Homo sapiens: one gene and its partners. The protein of the gene in region 2 interacts with the protein of the main gene of each other region in a pairwise test. Each region holds a gene or a part of one and is shown on either strand. Other genes may lie near its edges.

What was found.
Region 1: the proteins of GALT (region 2) and NQO1 interact in binary tests that used the Homo sapiens proteins (3 or more experiments, as listed by UniProt).
Region 3: the proteins of GALT (region 2) and UBTD2 interact in binary tests that used the Homo sapiens proteins (3 or more experiments, as listed by UniProt).

What each region holds. Positions count from the first base shown.
Region 1 is NC_000016.10:69,713,055-69,716,701, forward strand, and holds part of NQO1 (NAD(P)H dehydrogenase [quinone] 1), read right to left. Parts: intron 2,024-3,647; coding exon 1,910-2,023; intron 76-1,909; coding exon 1-75. UniProt on the Homo sapiens protein: Flavin-containing quinone reductase that catalyzes two-electron reduction of quinones to hydroquinones using either NADH or NADPH as electron donors.
Region 2 is NC_000009.12:34,645,261-34,649,474, forward strand, and holds the start of GALT (galactose-1-phosphate uridylyltransferase), read left to right. Parts: upstream 1-1,414; 5' UTR 1,415-1,444; coding exon 1,445-1,526; intron 1,527-1,828; coding exon 1,829-1,998; intron 1,999-2,231; coding exon 2,232-2,307; intron 2,308-2,396; coding exon 2,397-2,445; intron 2,446-2,571; coding exon 2,572-2,701; intron 2,702-2,854; coding exon 2,855-2,911; intron 2,912-3,073; coding exon 3,074-3,196; intron 3,197-3,501; coding exon 3,502-3,634; intron 3,635-3,737; coding exon 3,738-3,821; intron 3,822-4,149; coding exon 4,150-4,214. UniProt on the Homo sapiens protein: Plays an important role in galactose metabolism.
Region 3 is NC_000005.10:172,214,223-172,217,869, forward strand, and holds part of UBTD2 (ubiquitin domain-containing protein 2), read right to left. Parts: intron 1-3,647.

The DNA of each region.
Region 1 (3,647 bases), on a different chromosome or scaffold from region 2:
GTCCCCGTGGATCCCTTGCAGAGAGTACATGGAGCCACTGCCACCAGTGGTGATGGAAAGCACTGCCTTCTTACTCTGCAAAAGAAAAAGCAATAACAAACTTCACTTCCCTCCACATCCCCTTGGTGACAAGAAGTTAATGAAACAGCTCCAGGGAAAAGAACACACAAGTCTGTCCTATTTGCTGTTTATATTACTTCATACTTTGGCTCCCCTGAGCTACATAATATGACTCTGCAGGAGTGCCAGCCTAGATGGTCTACAGACCGGTGGCCTGGGGCAAATGAAGGATTCCAAACCCCCACATGTGGCTTAGGACGAGGCTGTCACCATATCCAAAATCAGTGCTGGCTGCTGGCTGCCTAGGTGGAGTTATTGGTTGTTCTTATCCATCCTCCCACGGGCTAGGCATGGCGTAGGACAAGCTCTTTCATCTGGAAGGTCTCGAAGGGTTCCCTGTGCAGGATTTGGGCCTCCAAAAAATGAAGACAGGCCTTCTTTTGTTTTTATTATGGAAATTTTTAACACATGTAAATGAGAAAATAGTGCTGCATCTATCACTCACCTTCACCTCTCAGTATTCTGCTATTCTAGTTTTAGCTCGACCCATGACCCCCTTTTTCTCTGGAGCGTTTTATTTTATTTTATTATTTCATTTTTTTTTTCCTGTGAGACAGAGTCTGGCTCTGTTGCCCAGGCTGGGGTGCAGTAGCACCATCTCAACCAACTGCAAACTGTCTCCCGGGTTCAAGTGATTCTCCTGCCTCAGCCTCCCAAATAGTTGGGATTACAGGTGCCCACCACCACATCCGGCTAATTTTTTTTTTGTTTTTGTTTTTGATATGGAGGCTCGCTCTGTCACCCAGCCTGGAGTGCAGTGGTGCGATCTCGGCTCACTGCAACCTCTGCCTCCCGGGTTCAAGCAACTATCTTGCCTCAGCCTCCCGAGTACCTGGGACTACAGGCACGTGCCACCGCACCCGGCTAAGTTTTTTTGTATTTTTAGTAGAGACGGGGTTTCGCCGTGTTAGGCAGGATAGTCTTGATCTCCTGACCTTGTGATCCGCCTGCCTCGGCCTCCCAAAGTGCTGGGATTACAGGTATGAGCCACCGTGCTTGGCCTTTTATTTTTTAAGATGGAGTCTTGCTTTGTTGCCCAGGCTGGAGTGCAGTGGCGCGATCTTGGCTCACTGTAACCTCCACCTCCTGGGTTTCAAGCAATTCTCCTGGCTCAGCCTCCTGAGTAGCTGGGATTGTAGATGCCCGCCACCACACCCAGCTAATTTTTGTATTTTTGGTAGAGACGGGGTTTCGCCATGTTGGCCAGACTGGTCTCAAACTCCTGACCTCAGGTGATCTGCCTGCCTCGGCCTCCCAAAGTGCTGAAATTACAGGCGTGAGCCACTGCGCCCGGCCTCTGGAGCATTTTAAAACAAATCCCAAACATCATGTCATTCCATCTGTAAAAACTTGATCATGCGTCTCTCCCGAAGGACCTGGAGCCTAGGCTTAGGATCTAATTGTGCTCAAAACCCTGCATCAGAGCCGGGCACAGTGGCTCACACCGGTAATCACAGCACTTTGGGAGGCTGAGGCGGGTAGATCACCTGAGGTCAGGAGTTCAAGACCAGCCTGACCAACATGGAGAAACCCCGTCTCTACTAGAAATACAAAATTAGCCGGGCATGGTGGCATATGCCTGTAATCCCAGCTACTCGGGAGGCTGAGGCAGGAGAATCGCTTGAACTCAGGAGGTGGAGGTTGCAGTGAGCCGAGATCCCGCCACTGCACTCCAGCCTGGGCAACAAGAGGGAAGCTCCATCTCAAACAAACAAACAAACAAACACCCCTGCATCAGGACAGACCACCCAGAAGCTGGCTGTCAGAGCATTCAGAACCATCCACCTACCCGGAAGGGTCCTTTGTCATACATGGCAGCGTAAGTGTAAGCAAACTCTCCTATGAACACTCGCTCAAACCAGCCTTTCAGAATGGCAGGGACTCCAAACCACTGCAGGGGGAACTGTGGGACAGAAGACATCATTGAGGTAAGACCAGGGGCTCCCCAAGCCCAGAAGGTGGCTCGGAGTGCTGAGCCGCTCCCCATGATGGCACTGTGTGGGAAGCCCCTCTTCACACCTTTCCCATTCCTCCTGGGGAGTTAGCACTTTAAGGAAAGAGATCATTATTGTCCTTGGTCAGCCAACTTGACAGTCTTCTTTTTCCCTGAAAATGCAAATATTGAGTGGGTCCGAGTAAAGCTAGATACACAGAAGACTTGTTGATATGAAACTTGTTTGTATGAAATCACATTTGGCAGCAAAGTCTAAATAGCAAGGATTGCAAACAAGGTTTGCTTCATGCTGTTGCTTCAATCAGTATTTTCCCAAGAGTTTGCTTTAGTAGGTGTGGTATCAACAATATGACTGTTGGCCAGGCGCAGTGGCTCAAGCCTGTAATCCCAGCCCTTTGGGAGGCCAAGGCGGGTGGATCACTTGAGGGCATGAGTTTGAGACCAGCCTGGCCAACATGGTGAAACCTCATCTCTACTAAAAATACCAAAATCAACCGGGCGTGGTGGCGCACGCCTGTAGTCCTAGCTACTCGGGCTGTTGAGGCAGGAGAATCACTTGAACCCGGGAGGTGGAGGTTACAGTGAGCCGAGATCGTGCCACTGCACTCCAGCCTGGGTGACAGAGTGAGACCCCATCGTGGAAAAAAATGTAGGCCTTCTTCATTTTATGACTGTCCCTTGTTATCGTGGATGAAAAATCATATCACTTAGAATAAACAAAATCACTCAAAAATGCAAACTAATAATCAGTGTGATGGCTGAGTGTGGTTGCTCATGCCTATAATCCCAGTATTTTGGGAGGCCAAGGTGGGAGGACCACTTGAGCCCAGGAGTTTGAGACCAGCCTGGGCAACAAAGTGAGACTTTGTCTCTACAAAAAAATTTAAAAATTAGCCTGATGTGATGGTGCACATCTCTAGTCCCAGCTATATGAGAGGCTGAGGCAGGAGGATTGCTTGAGCCCAGGAGTTGGAGGCTGCAGGGAGCTGTGATCACCACTGTATTCCAGCCTGGGTGACAGAGCAAGACTCCATCTCTAAATAATAATAATAATAATAATAATAATCATCATCATCATCAACGTGGCTAGGTGCAGTTGCTCATGCCTTTAATTCTAGCACTTTTGGAGGCCAAGGTGGGTGGATCACTTGAGGTCAGGAATTTGAGACCAGCCTGGCCAACATGGGGAAACCCTGTTTCTACTAAAAATACAAAAAGTCAAGCGTGGTGGTGCATGCCTGTAGTCCCAGCTACTTGGGAGGCTGAGGCAGGAAAATGGCTTGAACCCGGGAGGCGGAGGTTGCAGTGAGCCGAGATTGCACCATTGCACTCCAGCCTGGGCAACAGAGCGAGACTCCATCTCAAAAACAAATAAATAAATAAATAAAATGTTAAAAAATAAAAATTATAATAAATAATAATTAGGGTGACTAAGGTTCATCAGGGACTTCCCATGAGAAAGTCTTGTCTGACCTCTTATCCTAATAAAAGCAGAGTAAGGACTATACCAGGAGGTTTTCTTATCCTTGATTCATGATTTAAAGATATGAAAGGCACATGCCTATAATCCCAG
Region 2 (4,214 bases):
GAGGCAGGAGGATCACTTGAAGTCAGGAGTTCAAGACCAGCCTGGCCAACATGTGAAACCCCGTCTCTACTAAAAATACATAAATTAGCCCAGTGTGGTGGCACACAGCTCTAATTCCAGCTACTTGGAGGCTGAGGCAGGAGAATCGCTTGAACCTGGGAGGTGGAGGTTGCAGTGAGCCAAGATCACGCCACTGCACTCCAGCCTGGGTGGCAGAGTGAGACTCTCTCTCAAACAAACAAACAAACAAAAGTACCAGGGGAGGAATTAATTTGAATTTTATCCTAGTGTTAGCCAATTGGTCCCATCCAAGGAAAATTTAGAAAAGGGAAGGGGATGTGTAAAGGAAACACTAGGCCCCACCTAGATGGTGGCTGGAGCTTCTGATAGTCCTGTACTCTCCACATTTTTAGACTTTCTTGTACTTTTTTTTTTTTTTTTGTGACGGAGTCTGCTCTGTCGCCAGGCTAGAGTGCATGGGCACAATCTCGGCTCACTGCAACCTCTGCCTCCTGGGTTCAAGTGATTCTCCTGCCTCAGCCTCCCGAGTAGGTGGGACTACAGGTGCACGCCACCAAGACCAGCTAATTTTTTTTTTTTTTTTTTTTACTAGAGACGGGGTTTCACCATGTTGGCCAGGATGGTCTCAATTTCTTGACCTTGTGATCCGCCTGCCTTGGTCTCCCAAAGTGTTGGGATTACAGGCGTGAGCCACCGAGCCCGGCCATTTTTAGATTTTTTTTTATAGCCCTTTTACCCCTCCCACTTCTTGTGCTGTCTTGGTGTGTGTATGAAAAAGAGAGAGAGAGAGAGAGGAAGGAGAGCAAGAGTGAGAGAAAAAGAGAATATGGTTACTTAGCCCTTTTTCCCAAATCTGTTTTTGCTTTTGGGGATAGGATATGGTTATGGTGAAGTACTCCACACAGACCCCACCAAGTTTGCCTCTCCTGCGCTACAGCCACTGAGCAGGTGACTGAGGCGCTGTTGATCCAGGGTCATATCCTTACTCGCCCTAGAATGTAAGCTCAGGCAGGGCAGAGGCCATGCCTGACATGTGCATCCCAATGCTTTACACAGCCTAGGTGCCTAGCACATGCTAGATGCTTGGTAAATATTTGCTGAATGAAAGATCAAATGAATGATTGCAGCAAGCAAGTCCTGTAGGCATCCTGGAGCCCAAGGATTCTGCAGTAGGCAGCTTTCACAGAGGTTCTTCCAGTGTAGTGGCTCTAGCTCTGGGTGAAGTAGGATCATCAATGTCGGCCCCCAGGGTTCACAGCTGTTCTGAGCCCCGCCCCCAGGTGGCAGGGCAGCCCAGTCAGTCAGTCACGTGCTGGCGGCTGGCCAATCATCGGGGGCGGCGCGGGGAGGGGTGGTGTGGACGGAGAAAGTGAAAGGTGAGGCACGGCCCTGCAGATTTTCCAGCGGATCCCCCGGTGGCCTCATGTCGCGCAGTGGAACCGATCCTCAGCAACGCCAGCAGGCGTCAGAGGCGGACGCCGCAGCAGCAACCTTCCGGGCAAACGGTAACTGCACCGCGGCAGGGACTCGCTGGGGCGCGGAGCCGAGCCCTCCCCTTCCTTAGGAAGCTTTCGTCCCCTCCGAAGGTTGGAACGCTCATCCCGAGCCAGACCGACAAGGCGTACAGTCTGCAGGCCTGTACGAGCAGCAGGCCAATTGGCGCTGGGAAAGTCCAATCCTGGGCCTCTAGCTCCTGAGCGGGACAGGGCCGAGAGGGCGCTCCCGAGCTTGGGCCTGCTGGTGGGTGAGACCCAGGAGAGAGGGAGCTAGAGAGCTCTGAGGACTGATCTTGACTGTCTGCCCCCAGACCATCAGCATATCCGCTACAACCCGCTGCAGGATGAGTGGGTGCTGGTGTCAGCTCACCGCATGAAGCGGCCCTGGCAGGGTCAAGTGGAGCCCCAGCTTCTGAAGACAGTGCCCCGCCATGACCCTCTCAACCCTCTGTGTCCTGGGGCCATCCGAGCCAACGGAGAGGTAAGCCTGTAGAGCCCTGCATCTGCAGGCTGGGCCACGGGGAGTAGTTCCCTCTTAGAACTGTCCTCCACCCACAGGGATAGTGAACCTCCTTCTGGGTCATATCCCACCAAGCTTTTTGGTCCCCTAGGGTGGGCCTTCCCTACTCCCTTGTAGCCTGTCCAGTCTTTGAAGCCCACCAGGTAACTGGTGGTATGGGGCAGTGAGTGCTTCTAGCCTATCCTTGTCGGTAGGTGAATCCCCAGTACGATAGCACCTTCCTGTTTGACAACGACTTCCCAGCTCTGCAGCCTGATGCCCCCAGTCCAGGTAACCTGGCTCCAACTGCTGCTGGGGAGGAGGGTGGCTAGACCTCTTGAGGGACTTCTGCTGCAGAGAGTGATACTCCTTTACCTCAGGACCCAGTGATCATCCCCTTTTCCAAGCAAAGTCTGCTCGAGGAGTCTGGTAACTATGGATTTCCCCTCTTACAACTTTCAAACCAGAGTTGGAGACTCAGCATTGGGGTTCGGCCCTGCCCGTAGCACAGCCAAGCCCTACCTCTCGGTTATCTTTTCTCCCGTCACCACCCAGTAAGGTCATGTGCTTCCACCCCTGGTCGGATGTAACGCTGCCACTCATGTCGGTCCCTGAGATCCGGGCTGTTGTTGATGCATGGGCCTCAGTCACAGAGGAGCTGGGTGCCCAGTACCCTTGGGTGCAGGTTTGTGAGGTCGCCCCTTCCCCTGGATGGGCAGGGAGGGGGTGATGAAGCTTTGGTTCTGGGGAGTAACATTTCTGTTTCCACAGGGTGTGGTCAGGAGGGAGTTGACTTGGTGTCTTTTGGCTAACAGAGCTCCGTATCCCTATCTGATAGATCTTTGAAAACAAAGGTGCCATGATGGGCTGTTCTAACCCCCACCCCCACTGCCAGGTAAGGGTGTCAGGGGCTCCAGTGGGTTTCTTGGCTGAGTCTGAGCCAGCACTGTGGACATGGGAACAGGATTAATGGATGGGACAGAGGAAATATGCCAATGATGTGGAGGCTTGGAGGTAAAGGACCTGCCTGTTCTTCTCTGCTTTTGCCCCTTGACAGGTATGGGCCAGCAGTTTCCTGCCAGATATTGCCCAGCGTGAGGAGCGATCTCAGCAGGCCTATAAGAGTCAGCATGGAGAGCCCCTGCTAATGGAGTACAGCCGCCAGGAGCTACTCAGGAAGGTGGGAGAGAGCCAAGCCCTGTGTCCCCAAGGAGTCCCTAACTTTCTTATCCCATGAGAGAGGTGTGTAAAGGAGAAAGCTAGAGGTGAACTAGTAGAGAGAGACTTGCTAGGAGGCCTTAGCAATAATCCAGTAATCTAAAGGAAAGATGATGGTGACTTAGACTCGGGTGGTTAGTGGTAGAGGTGGTGAGAAGACATCAGATCCTGGGCACATTCTTTTCTTCTGCTTCCCTTGCCTATTTGCTGACCACACTCCGGCTCCTATGTCACCTTGATGACTTCCTATCCATTCTGTCTTCCTAGGAACGTCTGGTCCTAACCAGTGAGCACTGGTTAGTACTGGTCCCCTTCTGGGCAACATGGCCCTACCAGACACTGCTGCTGCCCCGTCGGCATGTGCGGCGGCTACCTGAGCTGACCCCTGCTGAGCGTGATGGTCAGTCTCCCAAGTAGGATCCTGGGGCTAGGCACTGGATGGAGGTTGCTCCCAGTAGGGTCAGCATCTGGACCCCAGGCTGAGAGTCAGGCTCTGATTCCAGATCTAGCCTCCATCATGAAGAAGCTCTTGACCAAGTATGACAACCTCTTTGAGACGTCCTTTCCCTACTCCATGGGCTGGCATGGTGAGGCTTTTCAAGTACCTATATTTAGCCCCAACACCATTTCTGGGCTCCTGGGGCTCAGCCTAGTGAACTGCAACCTCAAAGGAGCAAGCCTTGAAACAGTTGCTGGGGGAAGTGGCCAGAGTAGAGATGCTGGGACTGAGGGTGGAGCAGCAAACTTGGTGAAACTACATCTCCAATGTGCTTTCTAATCTCCTGCCAGCTCTTCTCAAGCAGGGGATCCTGGGAGATGTAGTTTTCAGATACCTGGTTGGGTTTGGGAGTAGGTGCTAACCTGGATAACTGTAAAAGGGCTCTCTCTCCCCACTGTCTCTCTTCTTTCTGTCAGGGGCTCCCACAGGATCAGAGGCTGGGGCCAACTGGAACCATTGGCAGCTGCACGCTCATTACTAC
Region 3 (3,647 bases), on a different chromosome or scaffold from region 2:
CAATGAACAAATGAGTTAATGAACCGGTATTTGTGTTTAATGTCAATAGGATGAAAATATAAAGCACCTGAAATGAGTCTGGAATGGTCATCAACCCACCACAGGTCCAATCTGGTCTGCCTTCTAAGTTACATAAGATGGGCTGGGGTGATAGCTTAGTTGGAAAGCAGAACACACGTGAATCTTCCCTCTTCTCTGTTTAGCCTCTGTGTATTCACTAATACTATTGTAGAAATGGATCTACTTCAAGCACAGTTGTGATCACTAGCAGTCCCTATACCAGTAACTTCACACTGCCCTTTCCCTTCTGCCCTTCATCCCAGTGAGTCAGGGTTTAGTTTTCAAATCTCTAAAAGGTGAGAGAGAAAAACTCCATGAAGAGTTACAGCTGGATGGTGTATATTCTTACTCATGCTCTGCCAGTGCTCAATCCATAATGCTGGAAGTAAGCTATTTAGATGGTTACAGAAGCTCCCGTATTTCAGTATTTTTAGAAACAGTAATTTGTTTTTTATTTAATATGGAATTTTCTAGTTTATTCTTTTCGGCACTTCTTTCTACAAAATTATAATCTGAGTTGTAAATATGCTCTAGTTTTACATTAAACTAAAAATCAGACTTTCTGTTTCTAGTCTGGCATGCAAAAAACTTAGAAGTCACCACTCCATCCTAACAAGTAAAAGGCTGAGCAAACTGAAAAATCAACAGATATTCTTAATCTGTGGGAGAAGTAAGGTCACAGGGCAAACCACTGCCCCCGAAATAGGAGAGACAGGCAGGGTAATACAGAGCATCACCATTTACCATAGCAGACACCCAGGAGCTGAAATCTCTGTGGAACCAGTGCAGGGTAGGGAAACCTCAAATGTAACCAAGTGAATTGCTAAAGGCTCAGTGTGGACAAGTCTTAGAGAGAAAGCTCCATGGGGACTTGGTGAAGGGTGTCTGGGAAGAGTGATACCTTCCTGAGTTTTACCTTCTGGACCTCTACAACTTCCTCGTAGTGACAGTCAGAATAATTCCCTGGGTTGGAGGAGGGTGCAAAAGGAACCATTTTTAAATATGCCAGAGAATTCTGCCCTCAGAAGAAACTAACTAGAGTCTATCCTGCTGGGGTTTTATCAGAGCCTAACTAATTTGGGAGAAGAGAAATACCCAGCTCTAGCCCCTTCTAGCCATCTTGTCCCACCTAAGGCAGGGACTATGACTGAGAAGCACTGGTCCAGTTCATGATCCAGAGGCAGAGGCTCACAAAAAGACTAAAACCTCCATATTACCGAAGGCCCATTTCACACAGTTCCTGTATATTATGTCCACCTTTCCCAAAAAATTACAAGATGTACCAAAAGGCAAAAAAACAGTTTTTTAGAGCAAGCACAAAACTAGACTCAGATACGGCAGAAGTGTTAGAATGATCAGACTGGGAATTTAAAACATGATTAATATGCTAATGGCTCTAATGGATGAAGCAGACAGCATGTAAGAAGAACAAATGGGAATGTAATAAGAGAGATGGAAATTCTAAAAAGAACCAAAAAGAAATGCTAGAGAACAAAACCACTGTAACAGAAATAAAGAACGCCTTTGATGGGCTTACTGGTAACTGAACACGAATGAGGAAGGAATATCTGAGTTTGATGATATCTCAGTAAAAATCTCTAAAACTGAAAAGCAAAGACAAAAAAGACCAAAAAACCTTGGGAGGTTGAGGCGGGGGTATCACCTCAGGTCAGGAGTTCGAGACCAGCCTGGCCAACATGGCGAAACCCCGTCTCTACTAAAAGTACAAAAATTAGCCGAGCGTGGTGGCAGGCGCTTGTAATAATCCCAGCTACTCAGGAGGCTGAGTCAGGAGAATTGCTTGAACCTGGGAGGCAGAGGTCGCAGTGAGCTGAGATTGCGCCACTGCACTCCAGCCTGGCAACAAGAGCGAGACTGTCTCAAAAAAAACAAAAAACAAATAAACAACAACTACAACAAAAAAGCCCAAAAAACCCCATGAAATCTAAAAACAAAAAACCCCACCACAAAACAGAGTATCCAGAAACTGTGGGACAAACCAAAGTGTAACATACACATGATGGGAACAGCAGAGAAGAACAAGAGAAAGAAACAGGAAAAATATTTGAAATAATTATGACTGAGAATTTTCCAGAGTTAATGTCAGAAAAACTACACACATCTAAGCATATCATTTTCAAACTTCAGGAAATCAAAGATTAAAAAAAAAAACAAACAAAAAACTCCTGGCCAGACATACTGATTCATGCCTATAACTCCAGCACTTTGCGAGGCCAAGGTAGGAGGACTGCTTGAGCCCATGAGTTTGAGGCCAGCTTGGGCAACATAGGGAAACCCCATCTCTACCCAAAAAAAAAAAAAAAAAAAAAAAAAAAAGCCAGAGGGGGGAAAAAACAGCTTACCCACAGAGGAGCAAAGAAAAGAATTAAATGGCTGGGCGCGGTGGCTCATGCCTGTAATCCAGCACTTTGGGAGGCTCTGATGGGCAGATAGCTTGAGATAGCCTGAGCTCAGGAGTTCAAAATCACCCTGAGCAACATAGTGAAACCCTGTCTCTACAAAAAATACAAAAATTAGTTGGGTGTGGTGGTGTGTGCCTGTACTTCCAGCTACTCAGGAGGCTGAGGTGAGGGGATCACTTGAGCCCGGGAGGTCAAGGGTGCAGTGAGCCGAGATTGTGTCACTGTACTCCAGCCTGGGCAACAGAGACAGACCTTGCCTAAAAAAACCACACACACACACAAAACAAAGACAGAATTACATATCCAACTCCAACTTCTCAGAAACCATGCAAGTATACAGTGAAGTGAAATATCTAAAGCATAGAAAAAACCACCAACCTATAATTCTGTATGCTGTGAAATTATCCTTCAAAACTGAAGGAGAGGCAGGGCGTGGTGGCTTATGCCTACAATCCCAGCACTTTGGGAGGCCAAGGTGGGTGGATCACCTGAGGTCAGGAGTTCAAGATCAGCCTGCCTAACACAGTGAAACCCTGTCTGTAGTAAAAATACAAAAAAAAAAAATTAGCCAGGCATGGTGGTGGGTGCTTATAATCCCACCTACTCCGGAGGCTGAGGCAGGAGAATGGCATGAACCCGGGAGGCGGAGCTTGCAGTGAGTCGAGATCGCGCCATTGCACTCCAGCCTGGGCGAAAGTGCGAGACTCTGTCTCAAAAAAAAAAAAAAAAAAGAAAGAAAGAAATAAGCAAAGGTGAAATAAGAACCTTTAAAAAAATTTTTTTTCTTATTTACTTTTAGAGACAGGGTCTTGCTGTCACCTAGACTATAATACACTGGTGTGATCACAGCTCACTGCAGCCTTGAACTCCTTGGCTCAAGGCTATCCCTCCTGCCTTAGTCTCATGAGTAGCTGGAACTACAGGTATACCCCACCATGCCCAGGTAATTTTTGTATTTTTTGGTAGAGGCAGGGTTTTGCCATGTTCATGTTGTCCAGGCTGGTCTCAAACTCCTGGGGGCAAATGATCCGCCTACCTCGCTTGCTGTGATTACAGGTATGAGCCACCATGCCTGGACCAAGAAGAAATAATAATGTTTAATGGGTATGCACCTAACCGCACAGCAAAGTATGTGAGGCAGAACTGACAGAACTACAAGGAGAA